Linked DNA regions of Homo sapiens: region 2 is linked to region 1. Evidence: fine-mapped expression QTL. Tissue or cell type: whole blood. Region 1 holds a variant in brackets; the other region holds the start of a gene. All regions are shown on one strand. Distances are from middle to middle.

Region 1 (8,000 bases):
TCCCAGAATGGTAGATCCACTGACAGCTTCCACTGTGTACCTGGAAAAGCCACAGACTCTCAATGCCAGCCCGTAAAAGCAAACAGGATGGGGGCCGTATCCTGCAAAGCCACAAGGGCAAAGCTGCCCAAGGACATGGGAGCCCACGTCTTTCATATGTGACCTGGATGTGAGACATGGAGTCAAAGGAGATCATTTTGGAACTTTAAGGTTTAATGACTGCCCTATTGGATTTCTACATGGGGCCTGTAGTGCCTTCGTTTTGGCCAATTTCTCCCAAGTGGAACAGGTGTATTTACCCAATGCCTGTACCCCCATTGTATCTAGGAAGTAACTAACTTGCTTTTGATTTTGCAGGCTCACAGGCAGAAGGGACTTGTCTTGTCTCAGATGAGACTTTGGACTGTGGACTTTGAGTTAATGATGAAATGAGTTAAGACTTTGGAGTACTGTTGGGAAGGCACGATTGGTTTTGAAATACGAGAATAGGAGCTCTGGGAGGGGCCAGAGGCAGAATGATATAATTTGGCTGTGTCCTCACTCAAATCTCATCTTGAATTGTAGCTCCCATAATTCCCACATGTCATGGGAGGGACTTGGTGGGAGGTAATTTAATCATGTGGGGCAGTTACTCTCATGCTATTCTCATGATAGTGAGTTCTCATGAGATCTGATGGTTGTATAAAGTGTAATTCCCCTGCACACGCTCTCTTGCCTGCCACCATGTAAGATGTGCCTTTGCTCCTCCTTCACCTTCTGCCATGATTATGAAGCCTCCTCAGCCATGTGGAACTGTGAGTCCATTAATCTTCTTTTTCTTTATAAATTACCCAGGCCCAGGTATTTCTTCATAGCAGTATGAAAATGAACTAATACAGTAGTTCTATCAAATTTCACAGCCTATAGCAGTGGGCTTCAGAATCTGAGAATTTACCTAAAAGATTTATATATAATTAAAGAGATCAATGCAAAGCTGCTTGGCTGAAGTGCTAGAGGACAGAGCCCTGTCTACTCAGTCTCACCTTCATTCTAAGTCCCATGAAAGCAGGAACGGCATCTGCCTCTTTCATTAGGAACAGCCTGTGCTTGGCACTTAGCAAACACTCAAGAAACATTTATGAAAGAATAAACAGACTATAAATTAATGGAGAAAAGAATGAAAGTCATTGACACATAGTAAATTATCCAGTCTAGAATTGTTGTTTCAAGCTTTTTGTTATGCCTACTTTCAACAGCAACTTCAAAGTAGATTTAATGAAAAGAATCAGCACAAAAAAATTCAGGAAAAAAATCTAAATTAAATTCAACAAGCCTTGTCAAATGACTATACTATAAATTGTAGGGCCCACAAAAATATGTAAGAAAAGGTCTCTCTTTTCCAGGAGTTTCCCATTCAGTGAGAAAGACTTACATTCAATTAGTAAGGTCAATAAAAGACTGTGGTAAATGTTACCAAGGAGAAATAAAGGTCTATGGAGGCTCTGAAAAAAAACAAGAAATTCCCACAGGGAAGAATTCGGGGAGACTTCCTGAAGGAGACACAATCTGAGGTGGCCCCTGAAGAATATGTAGAATTTCAAAAGTTGAATCTAAAAAAAGTACATTTCTGGTAAGGAAAAGAAAATGAGTAAATAAAGGAAAACATCAGGCCTCTTGTAGAGAGACAGAGAAATACTAATATACAGGTAAAAGGTAGATATCAAATAGTTTTAAAAGCTATAATTCAACACATAAAACAAGATCCTCTAGGAGTGCAGGGAATAATACACTTCTTTTCACATTAAGGTTAGCATACCTATGTGCTATAATCAAATCAAGTGAATACTTACAAGGTCATTCATATTAGTTTGGCTAGCTGGGTTAATTTCTTCCAAAAATTCCAAGACATAAAATGTGTATCTATCCATAAGATGGACTCCAATTGCAGGATCAGGTTGATGCTATGGAAAGGGGGAAAAAAAGTATTTCTAACAGTATCATTATAACAAAATGTTTTAAATGTAACCAAAATTTCCTTCTAATGTATTAGTCTAAGAAAGAACAGATACATTCATAAAGCATTTAATTGGTTTCAGAAATAGCTGCACATTCCAAAGACACAGTTTACAAATGGGGAAAATGCACATACCGAGAGTGAATCTTCTCCCACTTGACTACTAGCTAGAGCCATTATGTTAGGAGAATAAAATCGTTCATACATGGATGCTCCTTGGCAAGTATCAATAATAAACAGTAGCTCATTGTAGCTGAAAGAAAAATGATAACATCTTTGACAAGGATCATGCTGTAAATCATACACTAATATTTCTACAATACTTTTGTAAGATGTTTAAATCATATCTTAGTCATTTCATTAGCTAAAAGTTTTCAGCAGAATTCCCAACAGAAATTTGACCTCAGAAAAGTTAAAGGTATAAATTTGTCCAAGGAAACCACAGCGAGTCTTATTGTGCCCAAGGTGGCTGCCCCAGCTCTTTTCCCTCTTCCTTGTCTATGCCATATAATTCAGAATCTAAATGAATATTCCATTCAACAAGCACTTATTTGGCACCCATGCTGTCATAGAAATTGAGCTAGGTTCAGAAAAAGAAGTATGACTTAGTAACTATACTCAAAGAGCATAAACTCTAAGTGGAACACAGACAAACATACAACTACATTGGAACGTGATGAGTACTATAAATATATATTGAGTGCCTACAATGTGCCTGATATTATGCTGGAGATGCAATAGTCCCTGCCCTCATATAGCCTAGAGTCTAACAAAATCAAAGTGTTGAATGAACACTGAGAAAGGACTAAGGAGGAACTGCAAAGAAAAGCAGATCAGAGAAAGGTGATGCCCAATACGGACAATGAGGGATGTTATTTTGTTTTACAGAGAAAAGAAGATGACATTCCAGCAGAGAGAAAAGCACATAATGTAAAAAAGTATAAGTGCTTGGGAACAGATCTGTGTAGCTAGGATTTAAAGTAAATTTGGGAGAATGGAGGGAAATTGGTTTCAAAAAGGTAGAATAGGTTCAATTTGTAAAGGATACCATATGAAGTCTGGATCTTATCCTATAAGTTTGGAGAAACCATGAAAGGTTTTTGTTTTTGTTGTTGTTTTAATGAAAGAATAATATAATCAGGTATCCATTGCACAATAAGCTGGCTAGCTGGCAAAAGTTAAAGTAGAGAGGAGACATATTTTCTGGGAAGTTTTTCTCAGACACTGGGTCTAGGTAAACAGCTAACATGGAACCTAGAAAACAAAGCATTGAATCTTGAACCACAGTATCATCGAAGAAAGTGACAGGAGACACAATTAATATGACACATTTGTTCTGTGGCAAAATATGTGGAGGCTCCTATGCATTAGAAACACCCAAAGTTAGGAGAGGTTGTGGAGTAAACAAGAGAGCAAGCTCTAGGACTGAACCATTTGGGCATGAATCCTAGCTGTGTCAAGTTTGGCAAGTTACTACTAGCTGTGTAAAGTTCCACAAGTTATTTAATCTTTCTGTGCCTCAGTTCACTCACTTGTAAAAAGGGAATAATAATAGTATCTACCCCATAGAGTTGTAAAATTAAATGAGACAATAGATGTAAAATACAGTATGCAGCCCCCAGTATGCATTCTATAACTGTAAGCTATGAATAAGACATAATCAGTGCCTAGTAAAAGCTTCCTCAACACTTCCACACATTGCTTATGCTTTTATTTTAACATTACAGTATTTATTTTGTAGCATCATTGTATACATATTTCTCTTTTCCATTAGATTGTAAACACTTTGAAGGCAGAATAAGCATCATATTCCACTTTCTGCCATAGGAATGGAAGATAGCCTATAAGTGTTTATTGAAAGTAATCAAGTTAAAAGTTTTTTCACTTACAGTCATATGCATGACAGCTTCCAACTAAAGAGATGCTTAGCAAGGGTTACTAACAATCATCCTTAATGTGAGTTGTTACAAATTTTATGCTAATCATAATTTCAGCGATTTTTTTTTCCATAGAAGAAATACGTCTATAACATTAGGGGCCAAAGAATGAGCTAGAAAGAATAGGTACAAGTTGAAAAATAAACAGATGTTCATAATCTCCATAATAATAGCTAACTTGGTTGGAGGGACACTTATTTCCTCTAAAAAAGATGCTAAATAACAAGAGATGGAATCTTAAAAGGTTAACTATTTCATGTTATAGAATAACTCTCAGTTTTTCTTTTAAAAACAACCCAGTTCAGAGGAAATAACAAATGTAAATTTAAAAGAGTCAAAGAAATTGTCAAAATAAGTTAAAAATCTTAAAAAATAAAAATTACAAATCTACGAACCATGTGAAAATTAGGTATGAATATAGCTTATGAAAAGAAGTAATTTGCTAATTACCGTCTTTTCTGCCACATTTGTTCAAAAGCATCCGCGAGTTCTATGTTGGTAATTTCTTCAGAATCTTGAAATTTTAAGAAACCATTTCCACCATGCCCTTGTATAAAGAGTAAAAAAGATCAATAGATTTTTTAATGCAAACTGCATATATCTAGATATATACATTTACTTCATTCATTACATTTTGACATCGCTTGTTATTTTATACTCTAAAATGTATACTATGAAAACAAACAAATTGAATTTTCTACTATGCCAATTAAAAAGAGAATGATAGACTATATAAAATAGCAGATATAATATCTTTAATAGGGTTTCTAATATTCAATTACAGAAACCTATATTTATGCTCTTCCACTGGCTCCATTATTATATCAGAAATGAGTTTCCATTCACAAAATGTTTCAAATACCAGGCAAACATTTTTGATGAGAAAGAAGCTGAAGACATTAGCTAGTCCCACATTTTTACTACAAGAGGTGGAGCAGAAGATTGTGCTATTTGTATGCAATCTAGAGGCAG[G/A]TTGCCTGGATTCAAATGGTAACTATGCCATGTTAGTTTAGGAAAATAATTTAATATTTCTATGCTTCAGTTTCCTCAGCCATAAAGTGAGAAATGTATCTGCAACACTATCATTAGCTTACTTATACAGTTGCTTTGCACAGGTTTTTAAAAGGTACTTTCAACTGGGCATGAAAGTAGAAAAAAAAAACTAGTCTCCTCACCTTCCTCTTGGATACATGCAGCCCTGCAGGCTTACAAGTGGTTAGTTGACTATGCCTTTGTGGGAGAAAAAAGTATCCCTCCCTTCCATTAGAATACAACCCTGTGGTAGGGCAGATCGCTTAGTAAGTGTAAGCACATACGAGATTTCAGTTCCCACTTAACACCCTGGCCAGATTCTTGGGTGCACTATACAACCCACACAACCACATACAGCAACCTTGAATATCGGCACCTAAGTCAATGCACTGCTGTGAGAATGAAATGAGTTAATAGCCACAATGATTTAGAATACTGCCTGACGTATACTATGCCTCCATAAATATTATTATCATATTATCATAATTATCAACGTTTTTATTCTCTTACAGACCCTGGCAACCTTCTACAAAAGATCAGGTAGTAAATATTTTTGGCTTGTGAGCCATATTGTCTCTAGCACAACTACTGAACTCTGCTGTGGTAGTATGGAAGCAGTCACAGAAACTGTGTAAACCAAATGGATGCAACTGTGTTTCAATAAAACTTCCAAAACAGGCAGCCAGTTCACAGGCCATAGTTTATCAAATCCTATCTTCAACTACTGGAATTTGTTCCAAGCCTGCAGTTACCCTGAAAGAGTTCCAACAGAATCAGGAAACAAACAAAAAATAATAATAATAAATCCTTTAGTTTAGTACATCAAATAAAGCTAAGCTACAAAAAACTGCACTTCATCTTGTTTGCCATAAAAGCTTGAAAATTCCTTGTAATTTTCAGATAAAGTAAAATAAAATTTTTCCTGGCTTCATTAACTCTATTGAGTTAATTTATAAAGTTTATAAATTAAGCCTTGAAAGTTATAAATAAATGCAACACGATAGAGAAAAGCCACTAAGTAGGGGTCATTAACTATGTTGACATGTGATATCTAAGAATCATTCTGCACCTGCTTTATCATCAGTTGAATGGAATGCCCTCCAAAAAATTTATAGAACATCTTTTGATTAACATCCATATTTACCGAATACTACTACAAGACAGGCAACTGGTGATAAAAAAAAAAAAAAGCAAGAAATATATAATCAATGACATCTTGGAATTCAAAATACAGTGAAGGCAACAGATACCCAAACAATAAAGTAATAGTAAGTTAAATGCTATGAAAGAAACTAAAAATTAACATGGGCATGCACAGAGGAAAGTCCAGACCAGCCAAGGAGAAGAGAAATATCTTTAGATAAGAAAAATGTAAGCTGTGTTATTCATACCAATTCTGAAGGAGAAAGCAGAAACTATTAATAATAACACTGGGACAACAGGTGTAAACTACAACTGTCCCAGGTAATTGGAAACATCAGTCACCCTAGACTTAGAAAGGAAGTCATGGAAGGGAGTGACTCCTGAGCTAAAACTAAAACCATATGGAATAATCAAGCAGGCAAAGTGGACTGAAAAGACGTCATAAGCAAATGCAAGAGCTTAAACAAATGTTTGAAGGACAGAACATTCAAGCTTGGAAGAGAATTAGAAAAAGTATTAAGAACTAAGACAAACTAAATAATATAGCTAAATCATTACATATATTATTATGTGTAATACATATGATAACTATATTATATTATGGTACACTTTATCTCCAATATTCCTCAAAGTATAATCAAAAGACTACTGTATCTCATATCTGAGGAGTATATCCACAATGCAATTTCATGAATCCCAACCCAGATGAAAATTAAGTAAGAATTCTAAAATAAGGCCTAAGTATCTACAGTTGGTAATCTTCATGTACAGCAAAATTTGAGATGGAAAACCATTATAAAGTTTTAAGCAGAAGAGGGACAGATTTGCAATTTCTATTAGACACTTTCACAGGATGATTAGCAGGAGAACAAAACTGAAGGATGCTGTAGCAGGATACCAAGCAAAAGGTGCTAAGTTTACCAAGTCAATAGTAAAAAAATATAGAGATAAGAAAATCAGGAACAGCACAAAATGTTATACTGTTTTCAGATATCATCTCAAATAGTTCTACATTATGGAAAATATAACTACATGAGAAACCATTTTAACCAAAAATCATTTCACGTGTTTAAATTTCTTTCCATTTGCCTTTCTTTTCAAAGAGTTTCAATATACTCTACTATAAAAACTCTAAATTATGAAATTACCTGTCATATAAATTAGAATATTGCTTCTGTCATCAGAAAGAAGACGTTTTGACCGAGGAGTACTAGGTGGGATCCTCCCAGTTAATACCCGTAAAAAATTCTCCACAGTTACCTAAGGGGGAAAAAACAAGAAAAATCAGATGAAATAAAACCTGGGAAATCTTGACAAATTACTTTTTACTTTCAAAAATGTTCATTGTTCTTTCTCCATATATTACTCAGCACCAACTGAAAATAAAACACCCAAAAATTATATAACTCAATTAAAATATATTCATTTAAACATATACCTCCAAGTAACTTTGTTACTATTTTTAAAAGTACTAAAAACTAACAAAGAAGGCAGGCCATGGTGGCTCATGCCTATCAACTCAGCACTTTGTGAGGCAAGGCAAGAGGACTGCTTGTGGGCAGGAGTTCAAGATCAGCCTAAGCAACATAGTGAGACCCCATTTCTATGCACACACACAAAAAATGTTTAAAATAGCCAGGTATGGTAACATGCTCCTGTAGTTCTAGCTACTCAGAAGGCTGAGGCAGAAGGCTCATTTGAGCCCAGGAGTTCACCACTGCACTCCAGCCTGGGCAAGAGAGCAAGACTATGTCTCTTAGAAAAAAACAAAAAACAAAAACAAGCAAAGTAAAACTACCTTGGAGAAAAATAAGTTCTGAATTTAAAACTTTAAATGCTATGTGAAGTGCTGCCTTTAAAAACTACTAAAAAGCTGCAAAATTATTTATCTGGCT
Region 2 (8,180 bases), 55 kb after region 1:
CAGTAAAGTTGCAAGACTCAAAAATCAATAGACAAAAATCAATGGCGTTTCTATATACCAATAATGAACTAGTTGAAGAAAAATCAGGAATGCAATCCCACTTACAATAACTACAGAAAAATTAAACACCTAGGAATAAATTTAACCAAGAAGTGAAAAATCTCTACAATGAAAACTACAAAATATTGATGGAAAATGAAGAGAACACAAAAAGATGAAAATGCTTCCATGCATTGAATTGGAAGAATAAATACTGTATTGTTAAAATGACCACATCACCTAAAGTGATCTACAGTTCAATGCAATCTCTATCAAAATACCAATGATATTCTTCACAGAAATAGAAAAGCAATCCTGAAATATTTGCAAACTATTCATCCAATAAGGGATTAACATCCAAAATATACAAGGAACTCAAACTTATGCTAACAGCAAAAAAAACCAAATAATCTAATTAAAAACGAGCAAAGGATCTGAATAGATATTTCTCAAAAGACATACAAATGGCCCACAAGTGTATGAAAAAATGCTCAATATCACTAATCACCAAGGATATGCAAACCAAAACCACAATGAGATATCATCTTAGTGCCTATTATCAAAAAGACAAAAAAATAACAAATGCTAGTTAAGATGTAGACAAAAGGGAATTGGGAATTCTTATACACTGCTGGTGGGAATGTAAATTAGTATAGCCACTATAGTGAACAGTATGGAAGCTCCTCAAAACACTCAAAATAAAACTACCATATGATCCAGCAATTCCACTACTGGGCATATATTCAAAGGAAAGGAAACCAGTAGGCCAAAGAGATATCTACACTCCATATTTATTGCAGCACTATTCACAATAACCAAGATATAGCATCAACCTGAGTGTCTATCAGTAGATGAATGGATAAAGCAAATGTGTGTGTGTGCGTGCACACACGTGTATATATAAAATGGAGTATTATTCATCCATAAAAAGAATAAAATCCTTTCATAAACAGGTACGTGGATGAACCTGGAGGAAATTACATTAAGTGAAATAAGTCAGGCACAGAAATTTAAATTTTTTAATTTCAATATCACCCAGATACGGACATTTTTAAAAACTTGATCTCATGGAAATAGAGTAGAATAGAGGCTGGGAAGAATAGGAAGGTGACGGGGGGAGTACAGAGAGACATTCGTTAACAGATACAAAATTACAGATAGCAGGAATAAGTTCTAGCCTTCTATAGCACTTTAGAGTAACTATAGTAAACAATAATTTATTATATTTTCTCAACTACCTAGAAATCTTTTCTAACATTTTGAATATTATCAACACAAAGAAATGATAAAGTTTTGAGGTGACAGATATGCTGATTACTCTGATTTGATCATTTCATATTGAATATGTCTGAAAATATCACACTATATACCCCATAAATATGCACAATTATTGTGCCAATTAAAATATACATATTACAAAAAGAGAGGCATCGCTTAAAGAGAATACAACATTGGTCAGAAAGTAAAGTATCTATTTCTGGAGATTTGTGAAATATCATTAACAGATTTTAGAGTGTACATGTAACCCTCAAGAATATCAATTTTCATTAGAATATCATTTGCTGTAGTAATACAAGTTAATTCTTACGTTAACTACCAATAGAGATGGAAAAAACTGATCTCTGAAATTACTATGGCTAGGATAAAATACCCTTAATTTAGCAAGGCAATAACATAGTATTTCACATTAAATGAAACTATAATGGGTTGTCTATTGTTAAGCATTGTTTCTGATAAATTGACATGATAAATATAGAATAATAACCTGAACAAAAAGTGTGTGTGTGGCATGTGTGTGTGGGGGGGTGTGTGTGTGTGTATTTTTCCCCCTCCAAACTCAACAGCTGCCTGGATGTTAAAGAAAGCAATGTGCTACAGTGGTTAAGCATTGATTTGGGAATTCAAAGACCTAAGCTAAAATTTAGGTCCTATCTCGCAACTGGCTGTGAAATTGCGGTAAGTCATTTAGCTCTTTAGACTTGACTATCCTCATGTCTCTAATGTGCCTTCCACCTCCAAAGTTCTTACTTCTTTCAGACCTTAGTGAAAAAATTTAGATGGCAAAACTTTTTTGTGGTTGTCTAGACAATACAGTCATTATAAAGTTATTCATTCTACATACAGTAAATGCAGCACCTATTATGTGCCAGATACCATTAATATATAGTGATACAAAAATCACTAAAAAGCATGCTGCTTTCTCTCAAGAATCCAGAGTTCAATAAAGAGGAGCATGCAAACACATTACACTATAATTATTACATTCATTAATTCATCACACTCATTGGGCAACATGCCAGTCACTGCCCTGAGTGCTCCAAATACAATGCTGGGCAAAAATAGCCATAGTACTGCCTTCAAATAGGTTACTATCTAATTGGATAGATATACATTTAACAGATAAGGAAAGACACACAATATAATAAGAGTACAACAGAGGGACCTGACCTGGTCAGGAAAGTTTTCCTAAAGAAGTGACTGTTGGGTTAAAATCCAAAAGATGAAGAAAAGAGGAAATACAATTCCAGACAGAGGGGAGACAGCTCTAATGTGAGAAAAAGCTTAAAGGTTTTGAGAAACTGAAAGAAAGTTAGCCTAACTAGAAGTTTGAAAGAGAAAGAAAAAATTTGAAGTGTAGTCAGGGCCCAAAAAATATGCAGGGTTTTTGTTTGTGGGTCATGGTGGAGAGTTTAGAGCAACATTAAGGTGATCTTTTGAGCAACATCAAGGTCCCTGGGTGACATGATTGGAACTGCATTTTTAAAAGTTACTCTGGCTTCAATTTGGAGAACAGATTGAAAGGAAAAAACAACGACTCAAGGCAAAACATTTAGGAAACTGTTGCTCCTATCTCTAAGTGAGATATGATGGAATAACAGTACAAACCATACACGGGTTATAGTAAATGAGTGCTGTATCAAGTGTACAAATTACAAGAGTAAAGGCAAAGGTAAGAGATAGGGAAACGTTCTACAGAGGTTATGCCTTTACTGTATCTTAGCACATGAACAGAGGAAACACAATGTATAAAATATTGTAATGTGAAAAAGCACAGCAATTATGTAACTACAAAAAACAGTAATAGTATCCAAGATGAAGCAGTCAAAGTTAGAATAAAGGAGGGAAACAGAACTTCTATTTACTCATATTTATGTTCTCTAAAAATTATGCTATATAAACATCAAATATATAAATTAACAGTAATTCATAAATATATATGAAGTTCATGCTCAATATCTTTTTTTAACTGATAGGGTGTGTATTCAAAAAGTTTGGAGTCCACTGGTCTAAGCTCAAGGTGCCCAGGTGGTGGGGAGAAGAGGTTCCAATATGGAACACTGGAAAAGTAGGCAAGCACCAGGTCATAACGTTTAGACTTTATTCTGTATGCAATTAATAAATATTTAAAAGATTTCATCAGAAGAATAACCTGATCAGGCTTACATTTCGTGTAGACGAATCTAGCACCAAACTCAGGGAGTATGGAGGCCTATGGAAAACAAGATAAAGTAATCGCAAGAGTCTAGACAAGAAGTGATCACAGCCTGAATTAAGTCAGTGGAACTGGAGAGGTGAGGGCAATTTTAAGAACTCAGATCACAAAATTTAGTGATAATTAGAATATGGGATAAAGAGATTAAGACTCTCAGGTTTCTAGCTTAGGAGCAGCACATCTGGTTGAGAAATGGAGGAGAAAAGGGGTGCTTAGTTTTTCAGTGTCTTTTTAAGAGGAGGTAGGATAAGCAGAAGATAAAACTTTGCACACGGATTTTCAAATGTCTCCTGACTATCCCGGATTCTTAGTCAGCTGGATATGCAGGCCTGAAAAAGATACCAGACATCTAGATTGTAGACCGGGACTGAGGAATCATCAGAGTATGGTGAATAGTAAAAGCATTATAGAGCACCAGAACATCCTGTGTCCACGTTTAAAAATGGGAAGCTGGAGGAGCCCAGGATAAAACTAAGCACCCCTTTTCTCTTCCATTTCTTAACCCAGACGTGTTGCCCCTAAGCCAGAAACTTGAGAGTTTTAATAAACACTTATATTTATCCCATGTTCTAATTATCACTAAATTCTATTATCTGGATTCTTAAAATTGCCCTCATCTCTCCAGTTCCGTCTGACTCCTATCAAAACAGAGGGCTGCAGTTGAGTAGTAGGAAAGCAGTTGCTGCACACTGACATTTCACGAGCCTCTTGCTCGTATTTCACCTAAGAACTGCACACATGTAGGAGCAAAGGATCAGGTCCTCCTCTGTCTCCGAGGGTTTGATTATTTCAATTCATCGTTTTAAAACGCTGAAACAGACCAACAGTGTCCTAACCCGTGCCCAGTGATACCCTCCTCAAACCCAGCCTGGGTCAGGGGCTGATTGACTCCAGGAGGCGTCCCTCAGCTACTGTGTATCGGACATCTGCTGGAGGGCTCACAGCCGGCCTCCCGGCTGTGGTCAAATGAGCCTGACTCCTACCTCGATATGACTAGCGGCCACGCTGCCGAAGGACAAGAGCAACACAGTTGCCAAGACAGTCGCAGCCCGGCTGAGGCTGTCGGTGACGGCCATGTTTACCGGCTTCAGACTTCCCGCACCTGAAGGGGCGGAGGCAGTGCCGTAAAGTAGCGCTGCGGGTTTTTGCGACACCATCCGCGCCTCTTCGAGGTGGCCCTCTGGTCCGGCTTTAGAACTCTGCGGTTTTGTGGAGCTCGAGAGTCCGGGACAAGGTAGACGCAGGATATTGACCTTTTTATTTTTAACTGCATTTTCAGTTTGGAGGTTGTAAAATAGGTATAACATTTAAGAAAAAAAATTGAAAGGTGAGTGGAGGGAAAACCCGTAACTCCTTAAACTTTAAAAACTTATTTCTCTGTTCCCTTATTTATTTTATTTATTTATTTATTTATTTATTTATTTATTTTGCCGAGTGCTGCCAATTCTTTGAAAATATGAAGCTGGATGTGGTGGGAAGAACAAGCGTTTTGGCACAAAAAGATGATTAATTGGATAAACTATAAATGGAAAATGTGGGTGGGCGCTGCAATTTAGAGGCTTGGGGTCTACTACCTGGTGAAAGGATTAACATGGGAAGCTAGTTACGTTTTTGTTTCTTGAGTATCTTCTGTAATTATGGAACTAAAGCCTATCTGGAAGAGACACAGCTGGTGTATATGTATGGTCCACCATTCTCTTTATTATGTGAGTTCAGTTTTAATTTATGCATTTCATCTAGTATGACATAAACGTTTCCACGCTGCTTCCTCACAATTTTAACATTTAATGGTGAGATAAAATTCCATCCATTATTGATGCCTCAGCCAAAGTAATTGTCCCTCTGCTGCACAATGCAAAGTTTTTAAGTTTTACTATGAAAATAATATTGTAAAGAGTATCTTTTGTGTGTTTGGCTTTTTAAATCTGTTGAATTATTTTGTTTGTATAATTTTCCTGAACTAGGAATTTGGGGTCAAAATATTCCAAAACATTTTAATAACTATAAATGATGTTGCTTTCCAAAATGAACAAGCTTACAGCACTATCAGAATACACAACACCAAACCATACCATTTTTTTTCCTTTAAATTCTTTGGTATGAAATGTTACCCCTAGGTAACTATACTTATAATTCTTTGGTTACTATCAAGATCTGATGTCTTTCTTGTGTTTCTAAACTATCTCTGTGTCCTCTGATGTAAATTCTTTGTTTATATATTTATGTTTTGCATATGAATTTGAATAATATATTTATAAATAAGTAACATTAGCCTTTGCCATATTTTATGCTATTGCTTTTCCCATTCTCTTGTCTCTCTTTTCCTTTTATTTGTTTCTTTTGCTATTGCACTTTGTGAGAGGTTTCATGCTATTTAGTCAAATTTAGGTTTTCCGTTACGTGAATCCTAGAAAGTAAATACACTGCCAGAATATCTTCCATGTATTCATTAATTCAACAGATATCTATTGGATGCTGATGATTATGAAACAAAGTAGCAAAGATAAGAAGCCATTTGCTCATTCTGCTCCTTTGCCAGCAATATTTCACAAAGCCCCTGACTCATTGACTGTGAGCAGCCTTGTGGAAGAATGCCTTGAAGACCATAAGCAGGATAGGGAATAGGTTTGCACATCTCTTGCCTGAATCACTGAATTTTTACAAAAGGTAAGTTTGGTGATCCTAGCCCTTGCCTCTTCCTGTACATAAGATAATGTCTGACAAGATTAATGATTATGCCTCAAATTCATGACCAGATGTAACTTCATACCCACACTTTGATGAGACTTTACTTGTATTAACCCATTTTCATACTGCTATGAAGAAATACCCAAGACTGCATAATTTCTAAAGAAAAAGGCTTAGTGGACTCACAGTTCCACATGGCTGGGGAAGCCTCACAATCATGGTAGAAGATGAAGAAGGAGCAAAGGCACATCTTACATGGCAGCAGGTGAGAGAGCATGTGCAGAGGAACTACCCTTTATAAAACCATCAGAGGCCAGGTGCAGTGGCTCACACCTGTAATCCTAGCACTTTGGGAGGCCGAGGCAGGCAGATCATCTGAGGTCAGGCATTCAAGACCAGCCTGGCCAACATGGCAAAACCCCATGTTTCAAAATTAGCTCAGTGTGGGGGCACATGCCTGTAATACCAGCTACTAGGGAGGCTGAGGCAGGAGAATCGCTTGAACCTGGGAGGCAGAGGTTGCAGTGAGCCAAGATCACGCTACTGTACTCCAGCCTGGGCAACAGAGCCAGACTTTGTCTCAAAAAATAAAATGAAATAAAATAAAAATAAATAAATAGATAGATAAATAAAACCATCAGAGCTCGTGAGAACTCACTACCATGACAACATGAGGGTAACTGATCCCATAATTAAATTACTTCCCATCAGGTCCCTCCCTTGACACTTGGGGATTATGGGAGCTACAATTCAAGATGAGATTTGGGTTGGGACACAGCCAAACCATATCATTCCACCCTGGCCCCTCCAAAATCTCCTGTCCTCACATTTCAAAAGCAATCATGCCTTACCAGCAGTCCCCCAAAGTCTTAACTCATTTCAGCATTAACTCAAAAGTCTACAGTCCAAAGTCTCATCTGAGACAAGGCAAGTCCCTTCTGCCTATGAGCTTGTAAAATCATAAGCAAGTTAAGTTACTTCCTAAATACAATGGGGGTACAAGCATTGGGTAAATACACCCATTCCAAATGGGAGAAATAGGCCAAAATGAAGGGACTACAGGGCCCATGCAAGTCCAAAATCCAGCAGGGCAGTCAAATCTTAAAGCTCCAAAATGATCTGCTTTGACTCCGTGTCTCACATCCAGTTCACGTTGATACAAGAGGTAGGTTGCCATGGTCTTGGGCAGCTCTGCCCCTGTGGCTTTGCAAGATACAGCCTCCTTCCCAGCTGCTTTAACAGGCTGGCATTGAGTGTCTCTGGCTTTCCCAGGCATATGCTGCAAGCTGTTGGTGGATCTACCATCCTGGGGTCTGGAGGATGGTGGCCCTCTTCTCACAGCTCCACTAGGCACTGCCCCAGTGGGGACTCTGTGTGGGGGATCCCACCCCACATTTCCCTTCTGCATTGCCCTTCTGCCTTAGCAGAGGTCGTGCATGAGGGCCCTGCCCCTGCAGCACACCTCTGCCTGAACATCCGGGTGTTTCCATACATCCTCTGAAATCTAGGCAGGGTTCCCAAACCTCAATTCTTGACTTCCGTGCACCCACAGTCCCAATATCACATGTGAGCAGCCTGAGACTGCACAAAGCAGCAAGGCCCTGGGCCCAGCCCATAAACCCATTTTTCCTCCTTGGCCTCCTGGCTTGTGATGAGAGGGACTTCCAGGAAGACCTCTTACATGCCCTGGAGACATTTTTCCCATTGTCGTGGTAATTAACATGTGGCTTCTTGTTACTTATGCAAATTTCTGCAGCAGGCTTGAATTTCTCCGCAAAAAATGGGTTTTTCTTTTCTATCACGTCATCAGGCTGCAAGTTTTCCTTTTATGCTCTGCTTCCTCTTGAACGCTTTGCCACTTAGAAATTTCTTCCCTCAGGTACCCTAAATCATCTCTCTAAAGTTCAAAGTTCCACAGATAACTAGGGCAGGGGCAAAATGCCACCAGTCTCTTTGCTAA

The links. PIP is the estimated chance that this variant, and not a neighbour inherited with it, causes the effect.
Region 2: it holds the start of PIGK, and the variant in region 1 is fine-mapped to the expression of PIGK in whole blood (INTERVAL, PIP 0.94).

Annotation. Positions count from the first base shown.
Region 1 is chr1:77,159,466-77,167,465 of GRCh38, forward strand. PIGK (phosphatidylinositol glycan anchor biosynthesis class K) reads right to left here. Exons shown (of 11, transcript NM_005482.3): 5 at 7,254-7,365; 6 at 4,381-4,477; 7 at 2,129-2,246; 8 at 1,830-1,940. Among named protein-coding and RNA genes, the nearest start is that of PIGK, 56 kb to the right of the region's middle. The variant G/A (reference allele first, on the strand shown) is at 4,903.
Region 2 is chr1:77,214,795-77,222,974 of GRCh38, forward strand. PIGK (phosphatidylinositol glycan anchor biosynthesis class K) reads right to left here and starts at 4,636. Exons shown (of 11, transcript NM_005482.3): 1 at 4,516-4,636. The coding sequence starts at 4,608. LOC105378808 (a long non-coding RNA gene) reads left to right here and starts at 4,726. Exons shown (of 3, transcript XR_001738109.2): 1 at 4,726-4,859; 2 at 5,994-6,199. RefSeq lists an enhancer at 4,320-4,429.